2 separate regions of the Homo sapiens genome follow, and region 1 is linked to region 2. Evidence: fine-mapped expression QTL. A gene starts in region 2. The other region holds a variant in brackets. All regions are shown on one strand. Distances are between the middles of the regions.

The links. PIP is the estimated chance that this variant, and not a neighbour inherited with it, causes the effect.
Region 1: its variant is the best candidate, but not a certain one, in a credible set for the expression of TAS2R20 in whole blood (TOPMed, PIP 0.84).

The regions. Positions count from the first base shown.
Region 1 is chr12:11,145,402-11,150,794 of GRCh38, reverse strand. All of the region lies in intron 1 of PRH1-TAS2R14 (PRH1-TAS2R14 readthrough), which reads left to right. The region is part of intron 1 of PRH1-PRR4 (PRH1-PRR4 readthrough); the gene reads left to right. It also overlaps a transcript of PRH1 not described here. Among named protein-coding and RNA genes, the nearest start is that of TAS2R30, 13 kb to the right of the region's middle. The variant G/A (reference allele first, on the strand shown) is at 2,901.
Region 2 is chr12:10,995,946-11,001,338 of GRCh38, reverse strand. TAS2R20 (taste 2 receptor member 20) reads left to right here and starts at 3,035. Exons shown (of 1, transcript NM_176889.4): 1 at 3,035-5,378. The coding sequence starts at 3,464. The coding sequence ends at 4,393. All of the region lies in intron 3 of PRH1-TAS2R14 (PRH1-TAS2R14 readthrough), which reads left to right. All of the region lies in intron 3 of PRH1-PRR4 (PRH1-PRR4 readthrough), which reads left to right. It also overlaps a transcript of PRH1 not described here.

The DNA of each region.
Region 1 (5,393 bases), 150 kb before region 2:
GTGCACAATGTGCAGGTAAGTTACATATGTATACATGAGCCATGCTGGTGTGCTGCACCCATTAACTCGTCATTTAGCATTAGGTATATCTCCTAATGCTATCCCTTCCCCTTCCCCCAACCCCACAACTGTCCCCAGAATGTGATGTTCCCCTTCCTGTGTCCATGTGTTCTCATTGTTCAATTCCCACCTATGAGTGAGAACATGCAGTGTTTGGTTTTTTGTCCTTGCCATAGTTTACTGAGAATGATGATTTCCAATTTCATCCATGTCCCTACAGAGGACATGAACTCATCATTTTTTATGGCTGCTTAGTATTCCATGGTGTATATGTGCCACATTTTCTTAATCCAGTCTATCATTGTTGGACATTTGGATTGGTTCCAAGTCTTTGCTATTGTGAATAGTGCTGCAATAAACATACGTGTGCATGTGTCTTTATAGCAGCATGATTTATAGTCCTTTGGGTTTATACCCAGTAATGGGATGGCTGGGTCAAATGGTATTTCTAGCTCTAGATCCCTGAGGAATCGCCACACTGACTTCCACAATGGTTGAACTAGTTTACAGTCCCACCAACAGTGTAAAAGTGTTCCTATTTCTCCACATCCTCTCCAGCACCTGTTGTTTCCTGACTTTTTAGTGATTGCCATTCTAACTGGTGTGAGATGGTATCTCACTGTGGTTTTGATTTGCATTTCTCTGATGGCCAGTGATGATGAGCATTTTTTCATGTGTTTTTTGGCTGCATAAATGTCTTCTTTTGAGAAGTGTCTGTTCATGTCCTTTGCCCACTTTTTGATGGGGTTGTCTGTTTTTTTCTTGTAAATTTGTTTGAGTTCATTGTAGATTCTGGATATTAGCCCTTTGTCAGATGAGTAGGTTGCGAAAATTTTCTCCCATTCTGTAGGTTGCCTGTTCACTCTGATGGTAGTTTCTTTTGCTGTGCAGAAGCTCTTGAGTTTAATGAGATCCCATTTGTCAATTTTGTCTTTTGTTGCCATTGCTTTTGGTGTTTTAGACATGAAGTCCTTGCCCATGCCTATGTCCTGAATGGTAATGCCTAGGTTTTCTTCTAGGGTTTTTATGGTTTTAGGTCTAATGTTTAAGTCTTTAATCCATCTTGAATTAATTTTTGTATAAGGTGTAAGGAAGGGATCCAGTTTCAGCTTTCTACATATGGCTAGCCAGTTTTCCCAGCACCATTTATTAAATAGGGAATCCTTTCCCCATTGCTTGTTTTTCTCAGGTTTGTCAAAGATCAGATAGTTGTAGATATGCGGCGTTATTTCTGACGGCTCTGTTCTGTTCCATTGATCTATATCTCTGTTTTGGTACCAGTACCATGCTGTTTTGGTTACTGTAGCCTTGTAGTATAGTTTGAAGTCAGGTAGCGTGATGCCTCCAGCTTTGTTCTTTTGGCTTAGGATTGACTTGGCGAAAGCAAGAGCAAACACATTCAAAAGCTAGCAGAAGGCAAGAAATAACTAAAATCAGAGCAGAACTGAAGGAAATAGAGACACAAAGAACCTTTCAAAAAATTAATGAATCCAGGAGCTGGTTTTTTGAAAGGATCAACAAAATTGATAGACTGCTAGCAAGACTAATAAAGAAAAAAAGAGAGAAGAATCAAATAGACACAATAAAAAATAATAAAGGGGATATCACCACCGATCCCACAGAAATACAAACTACCATCAGAGAATACTACAAACACCTCTACGCAAATAAACTAGAAAATCTAGAAGAAATGGATAAATTCCTTGACACATACACTCTCCCAAGACTAAACCAGGAAGAAGTTGAGTCTCTGAATAGACCAATAACAGGATCTGAAATTGTGGCAATAATCAATAGCTTACCAACCAAAAAGAGTCCAGGACCAGATGGATTCACAGCCGAATTCTACCAGAGGTACAAGGAGGAACTGGTACCATTCCTTCTGAAACTATTCCAATCAATAGAAAAAGAGGGAATCCTCCCTAACTCATTTTATGAGGCCAGCATCATCCTGATACCAAAGCTGGGCAGAGACACAACCAAAAAGAGAATTTTAGACTAATATCCTTGATGAACATTGATGCAAAAATCCTCAATAAAATACTGGCAAACCGAATCCAGCAGCACATCAAAAAGCTTATCCACCATGATCAAGTGGGCTTCATCCCTGGGATGCAAGGCTGGTTCAATATATGCAAATCAATAAATGTAATCCAGCATATAAACAGAACCAAAGACAAAAACCACATGATTATCTCAATAGATGCAGAAAAGGCCTTTGACAAAATTCAACAACCTTCACGCTAAAAACTCTCAATAAATTAGGTATTGATGGGACGTATCTCAAAATAATAAGAGCTATCTATGACAGACCCACAGCCAATATCATACTGAATGGGCAAAAACTGGAAGCATTCCCTTTGAAAACTGGCACAAGACAGGGATGCCCTCTCTCACCACTCCTATTCAACATAGTGTTGGAAGTTGTGACCAGGGCAATGAGGCAGGAGAAGGAAATAAAGGGTATTCAATTAGGAAAAGAGGAAGTCAAATTGTCCCTGTTTGCAGACGACATGATTGTATATCTAGAAAATCCCATTGTCTCAGCCCAAAATCTCGTTAAGCTGATAAGCAACTTCAGCAAAGTCTCAGGATACAAAATCAATGTACAAAAATCACAAGCATTCTTATACACCAATAACAGACAAACAGAGAGCCAAATCATGAGTGAACTCCCATTCACAATTGCTTCAAAGAGAATAAAATACCTAGGAGTCCAACTTACAAGGGATGTGAAGGACCTCTTCAAGGAGAACTACAAACCACTGCTCAATGAAATAAAAGAGGATACAAACAAATGGAAGAACATTCCATGCTCATGGGTAGGAAGAATCAATATC[G/A]TGAAAATGGCCATACTGCCCAAGGTAATTTATAGATTCAATGCCATCCCCATCAAGCTAACAATGACTTTCTTCACAGAATTGGAAAACTACTTTAAAGTTCACTGATATCTTAAATAAGGCAGAAATGCTCTTTAACATCTGTAGAACTCAACATTGTTCTAGCACTTTTAGCTAATGTAATAGGACAAGCAATATAAACTCATCTAGGAACTGGAATGAGATAGACAAATTTACAGTATAATGATGTGATGATGTCACTGCTTAAATGAACACTCCTAAAGAATCAACAGGTACTATTAGCATAAGAAAAGATAACAAGGTTCTTCATATAACATCGATTTACCAAAAAACAGTGTATCTATTGCCAACAGTAAATTACAATATGTAAATTTAAAAAATTCTTTGGCCAGGTGTCATGGCTCATGTCTGTAATCCCAGCATGTTGGGAGGCCCAGGCAGGTGGATTCCTTGAGTCCAGGGGCTCGAGACCAGCCTGGGAAACCTGGTGAAACCCTGTCTCTACTAAAAATACAAAAATTAGCGGTGTGTGGTGGCACACACCTGTAGTCACAGCTACTCAGTAAGCTGAGGTGGGAGGATCTGATCTTGGGAGGCTGATGCTGCAGTGAGCCGAGATCGTGCCACTGCACTCCAGCCTGGGCAACTGGAGTGAGACATTGTTTCAAAAACAATACATGAAGAGATGTATCATGTTCATAGATAAACTGAGTATTATAAAATATAATTTCTTTCTAGATTAATATAGTCAATGCAAGTTGTGGCAAAGTCTTATTAAAGTTTTGTGAAAATTGTGAAAAATGACTTGAAAAATACATATAGAAAATTAACAGTTCGGAGATAGGCAAGAAAACTTGGAAAAAGAAGGAGGTAAGTTCTTTACTGGGTATCAAGATTTATTATAGTGTAATTATGAAAATTGAAAGAATTTTGGCACAGAAGGATGCAATAGACAACAAAAGGGAATAGTAAGGCAGAATATATTTAGGTAATTTACTTTTTGTGCACATGTAATTTGTCTTATAATAAGATTATCATTAGAAATTAGTAGATAAGATGTGTTTTTTGCAGTAAATTGTTTGGATAATGGACTTTTCATAAGGAGGAAAATCAGTGTGTAACTTGTATCACAAAAAATAGTCCAAAAGGACTAAGATCTAAACATTAAGAACAAAATTTAAAGCTAAGAAAAATGTAAATTATTTTATAAATTCAGGGTAGGTGAGGATTTTATCTGAAAGATACAAAAACCACGAAACATAAAGGAAAAGTTTGATAAGTTTTAAATTCCTTGGAAAGATCTGTTAATTAATCCAGCTAAGTTAGCTGTCTGACTCTAGTCTAATTATACATCTAGGCATTTGATAATGAATACAGAAAGAGTATTAAAACTAGGAATATATGGATGAAATTAAAAATACTCATTTTACCTAATAAAAAAATCATGTTCTTAGATGACATTCTCATTGTTGTGATGACATCAATTCTTGCCAAATTCAGGTATACATGTAAGATGTTAAGGCAAATATTGCCATTTTTTTTCTCATTTAGAGTAGTTTATTATGCTAAGGGCCTGGGAAACACTTTAGATTCAGTAAAAAAACTACCTAGAAGAATAAAGCAGAATGAATACTAGAAAAAGACTGAAAGAAAAAAAATGTGTAAAGACGCACAGAATGAGGAACATCTGTTGGTAAAATATATTATAAAAATACTAAAAAGGTATCCAGATAGTAAAAAGCTCAGAAACATGAAAAATCTCTTTCACTACTGGTAGAAGCATATAGTAGGATATAGTCAAAGCGAATTTAGCATAAAAATACATACACTTTATATCTATGTATCTATGTACACATACTTTTTGATATGCATGTATAACTACATATTTCTGAAACGTTTCTAAAAATAATCATAAAATGATTACAGATATGCAAAAACAGTTATAGAGCTATGTATAGTTTGTTAACATTAAGATAAAAGCCTTAACATTTTTTATGCTTAAAAACATTATAATGCTTCATTATAGCAGAATACACATTTGTCATTAAAAGAGATATAGAGCAGAATTTCTCAGAGTTCAGCAGAATATTCATAGTTGTTACAAAAAAAAAGTTCTTAATTTTTAAATATTTTAGGCAATGCTGGCTTAAGCGACTTTAACCTTTTTGTTTGTTTTTAAATCATAAGCTTTCTGTATACTCTGTTAGTATGTAAAAGGAAGTGCTCTATGTGGAGTTTCCCAAATTTCCTTTTCTGTGAAATCCTTTTCTGTTTTAGAAAATACCTTTTAATTCTAACATTTTCAGGAATTTAATTTGAGAAATTCTAATATTGAGGGATTATGTATCAGTGAGGAACAATTTCATTTTTTAGAACATGTAGACTGGGTATGGTGGCTCACACCTGTAATCCTAGCACTTTGGGAGGCCAAGGAGGATAGATTATTTGAGGTCAGGAGTTTCAGACCATCCT
Region 2 (5,393 bases):
GCTAATAAAAAAAGAGTAAAATTTAATTTGTAAAATAGAATGGTGTAGCTAGGGTTGAGGTGCTATAATTTATTTATTGGAATGGCATCTTGAGATCCAGCACAGCTCATTGAATTTCCCTGTGGGGAGAGTTTGTGGTGAAGACTCATCAACAGACAAGCTGCTATCCCCCCCTAAAAAAAAAAGCTACTAACATCACATCAATTTCCAGGTTCTTCCAACTTGCGGAAGGATGTGTAGACCAAGCTTTTATTCTATTTTGTGACCAAAGTCTTGGGAAAAGAAGAAAATTGTTAGCATTTTCATGTCAAGCATACGAAAAACAAAAAAACAAAGCCAACCAACTGAACAAAGAACCCAACTTTTTTTAAAAAACTTGGTGGTAAGAGTGCTTTGTTCTGCTTCTCCATAGATAATGATTTATAGAAGGAGAACAAAATATAATTTCTGCTACTAAAACAATAATAGCAAAAAATAAATAATCAATATTGAGAATCCAATAGACAGAGTTAACAACCAGTTAGACATAGAAGAGAGAATTAGTGAATTGGAAGACAACTATAAAGAAAGAAGCCTAAAGAGACCACAAGACAAAGAATGCCAAGCTAAGAGGATAAGAGGCATTGATGCTACAATCAGAGCATCTAACATACTTCTGGATTTCTGGAAGATTAAAAGGGATAAAATAGGGCAGAATCAATGTTGTGGAGATTTTCCCAAAAGTGATAAAATGTATTAATCCATATATTTTTAGTAACCATCAAAGGTCAGACAAGATAACTAAAAACAAATTAACATAAAATGTCACAAGACATCAAAGACCAGTAGAAAATCTGAAAAGTAGCCAGAGGAAAAGATAGATTATTTTAAAAGGAACAACTTTCTAAATGACAACCTGATTTTCAACAGAAAAATGGAAAGTAGAATTCAATGGAATCATGTCTTTAGTGTGTTTCAAAAGAATAGAGGACCTTCATAAACAGAAATCCAAATGATATTTTTCAGATAAAAAATATTGAAAATACAAGGTTAAGCATGCAAGAAGGAATAAAAATTAACAGAAATGATAAATATGTGCATAATTCTAAATGAATGTTGACTGAATAAAATAATAGCGTCTTGCTGAGTTAAATATATTATTGATAAGATATATGCAAATAGCGATAAAGAGACTGGAGGTAAAGGTGACAGGAACAAATTTAGATAAATTATTTTTTGCACTTTTCTATGTCTGTGAGGATAATTTGAACACCACATTTAATGACCCCATAATAGGAATTGCATCAAATGATATGTGAAATAATGCTGATAGTAGTATTATTCATAATAGCTCAAAAATAGACTGCCCAAATATATATTAACTAAGGATGATTGAATGATATGAAAGATTACAGTAAATCCATACAGTGGAACAGTATATAGAGGTGAAAAGAAATGAATCACATGTACATGCAACTATGTAACTAAATTTCAGAAACATGATATCTAGTGCAAGAAGCCATGAACAAGAAGAACACACAGGACTGCACCTATACACAGTTCAAAGCAGGACAGACCAAGCTGTGGAGTTTAGGGTTGTGAACCTAGCTGGTAAAGTATAAAGAAATTCAAGCAAATGATCATCATAGATTATGAATATTGCTTATCTCAGGAGATGTGAATAAAGGTTTAGGGGCTTGGAAAGTGGCCTGGAAGTGGACCTAGTCTGTTTGCAGTGTTCCATGTCTTATCCTGCATGATGGTTACATAAGTGTTTATGATACATTGCTCTTACCTATTTTTGTTTTGGCCCATTTCTAAGTGTGCATTATAATTTTATTTAAAAAATTACAAATTGGGAGAAATGTCACGTAAAAATTATTAATTGCTCTGCTCATTATATACCTAGGGGGAAAATCCACCATTTACGTACATTCTTATACAACTCAAGAGAGCTAAAGTGAATTCTTATTTTAGTTGCAAAATGGAGAAATTTGAGATGCTGTTACCTACAGCCTCCAGATCTTTCCAAAAGTTTTCTTCTAGTTTTAGATATTCACCTCATATTACAAAAACTTTGATATTTCCAACCTATTTTTCCTTTGGCTCCTGAATTTCTGACACAACAAGGGCGCACATATTTCTCAAACTCTTGGATTAGCAGAGTACCTATATCACTTAGCTTTTTCTGCAAAAGAAACTTCTCCAAAACCACATTAGATATTTATATCTCACATGTTTTTGGATTCTGTTTTCTTAAGCTGGGGTTTGGTGGATGGCTCTGGTGATTTGAGATGGTCCAAGTTTTGCCTCTTGGATCTAGTTAGAGTTTGGCCGATTTAAGGCTGGATCAGGCAGGAGCCATATGATTCCATGAGTTACTCATTCTTATTCTGGGAACAGTGTGTTAGTGTGGACATGTTCTCATTATAAACCGGAAAGGAACAAGAAAGCCTAATGTGGAGGTCATCTCAAATTTCGATGTAAAGTGTAGTAATTTTCTGTTCATCAAAGCAAATTACATGATCGAACTCAGAGCCCTAGTGCAAGGTTGTCACTATGCCTGTGGTGGGAGGACACTGCAAAATTATGTGACAAAGGTCTGGTACTCAGGAATGTTTACAAGCTTGCAGGTAGCATTACCAAAAGCCTAAGCATGAGAGATATGTTTCATGAATATTATTCATTGGCTGAAAATCTGGCATGGGAAAAATAGGACTAATTCCACCAGGACGAGCTCCTGGAAACTCATTTTCCATGTCATAAGTTACAAGAAAGCAATTCCTTCCATCCTTGAAGAGTGAAAGTGTGTGTGTGTCTGTGTGTGTGTTTATGAGCTTGTTAATAGTGATGCCATATAGAAGTATTGGTTAACAGCAACCAAATTATAAGGAGTATTGGCTTTCCTGTGGTTTCCAAGAAAATCTTAGGTGATTTTGATAAAAAGTTTAGATTCTGTGTATTTAAATCTGGCTTTAAAAATAAATCCATAGTGATTTTGATCCTAGATTTCACCAGGCTCTTTTAACAATATATTTTTTGTGTCATCTATGTACTGGGTATTAAAATTTCCCCAACAACTGAAGGGCTGAACACAAATTATGGAAAGGTGAAACAAGGAAAAAATTGCAAAGCAATGAAAGAGGATATGTCTTTATTTGAATGCTAGCAAATGAGAATTCAGCTTTCCCTTCAACATCAGTATGAAAAATTTCAGCCTATAGCAAGAATAGAGACTTTATGAATAAGAATTAATTTGAGTTGTTTTGGGACTAACAGTATTTCCCATAAAGGCAGCATTGAACTCATTCATTAGTTTAAGCTGGTGCTTTTCTGTTGACATTGTTCACAGAATTTAAAAGTATAAAGAATGTTATTGGACATTCAGGAATCAAGTGCATATTTAACTTAAAGTCTTGAATATCAGAGGAGTCACCATCAGTGACATTAGGCCTGAATTTTTTACTTGCTTTTTTGTTTAGACATGATGAGTTTTCTACACATTGTTTTTTCCATTCTAGTAGTGGTTGCATTTATTCTTGGAAATTTTGCCAATGGCTTTATAGCACTGATAAATTTCATTGCCTGGGTCAAGAGACAAAAGATCTCCTCAGCTGATCAAATTATTGCTGCTCTGGCAGTCTCCAGAGTTGGTTTGCTCTGGGTAATATTATTACATTGGTATTCAACTGTGTTGAATCCAACTTCATCTAATTTAAAAGTAATAATTTTTATTTCTAATGCCTGGGCAGTAACCAATCATTTCAGCATCTGGCTTGCTACTAGCCTCAGCATATTTTATTTGCTCAAGATCGTCAATTTCTCCAGACTTATTTTTCATCACTTAAAAAGGAAGGCTAAGAGTGTAGTTCTGGTGATAGTGTTGGGGTCTTTGTTCTTTTTGGTTTGTCACCTTGTGATGAAACACACGTATATAAATGTGTGGACAGAAGAATGTGAAGGAAACGTAACTTGGAAGATCAAACTGAGGAATGCAATGCACCTTTCCAACTTGACTGTAGCCATGCTAGCAAACTTGATACCATTCACTCTGACCCTGATATCTTTTCTGCTGTTAATCTACTCTCTGTGTAAACATCTGAAGAAGATGCAGCTCCATGGCAAAGGATCTCAAGATCCCAGCACCAAGATCCACATAAAAGCTCTGCAAACTGTGACCTCCTTCCTCATATTACTTGCCATTTACTTTCTGTGTCTAATCATATCGTTTTGGAATTTTAAGATGCGACCAAAAGAAATTGTCTTAATGCTTTGCCAAGCTTTTGGAATCATATATCCATCATTCCACTCATTCATTCTGATTTGGGGGAACAAGACGCTAAAGCAGACCTTTCTTTCAGTTTTGTGGCAGGTGACTTGCTGGGCAAAAGGACAGAACCAGTCAACTCCATAGATTCACAAGAGGTGCATTGTGTGTTTTCTAGCAGAAAACAAATTGATGGTGTCTGGAACATTTTATATTTCCCACAAGTTTTTCCGTAGTCTATGTATTTGAGTAATTTCCAAAAGTTGACATAGAAAAGTCTTTTACCTAAGTTTATTATATAAAAGTATATATATATAATATACATTTGCGTGTGTGTGTATGTCTGAATGTATATGAAAATTTAATATTTACCATAACATACCTTTAATCAACTTTTCATATAAACTGTTCAGTTATACCAAAGTAGGATAAGAAATTTCTCAGAATTATGAACCCATGTGTATTTCACACATTTTTTTATATGATATTTCATTTGAGGAATTTATGATCTCTATTTATAATTAAGAACTGACAGCTTATATCAGAAAATCATTGCTGTTTTTCGTTGTAAAATCATTGCTGTTTTTCGTTGTAATTTGTATCACGTATATGTACCATAGTGTGTTTAACTGTTTAACTATCATTGTTTGAACCTCTAATTTTTTGGATGGTAAGGACATTTAATTCTAAATCGATGAGAATGTGTCTTTGGGGTAGGTTTTTTTGTTTTTTTTTTAATCATGAATTCTTTTTTTCTTTTTTTTGAGATGGAGTCTTGCCCTGTTGTCCAGGCTGGAATGCAGTAGCACAATCTTGGCTCACCACAACGTTCACCTCTGGGGTTCAAGTGATTTCCATGCGTCAGCCTCCTGAGTGGCTGGGACTCCAGGCATGCGCTACCACACGTGGCTAATTTTTTGTATTTTTCTTTTTTTTTTTAGTAGAGATGGGGTTTCACCATGCTGGCCAGGCTGGTCTCGAACTCTTGACCTCAAGTGATCCACTGCCTCAGCCTCCCAAAGTGCTGGGATTATAGACATTCATGATGAATTCTTATTTTATGTTTAATATAAAGCAAATACAATTATTGTTAGATAACAATGCACAAAATAAAATTCAAGGGTGAAAAATATATCTAGTGTACATT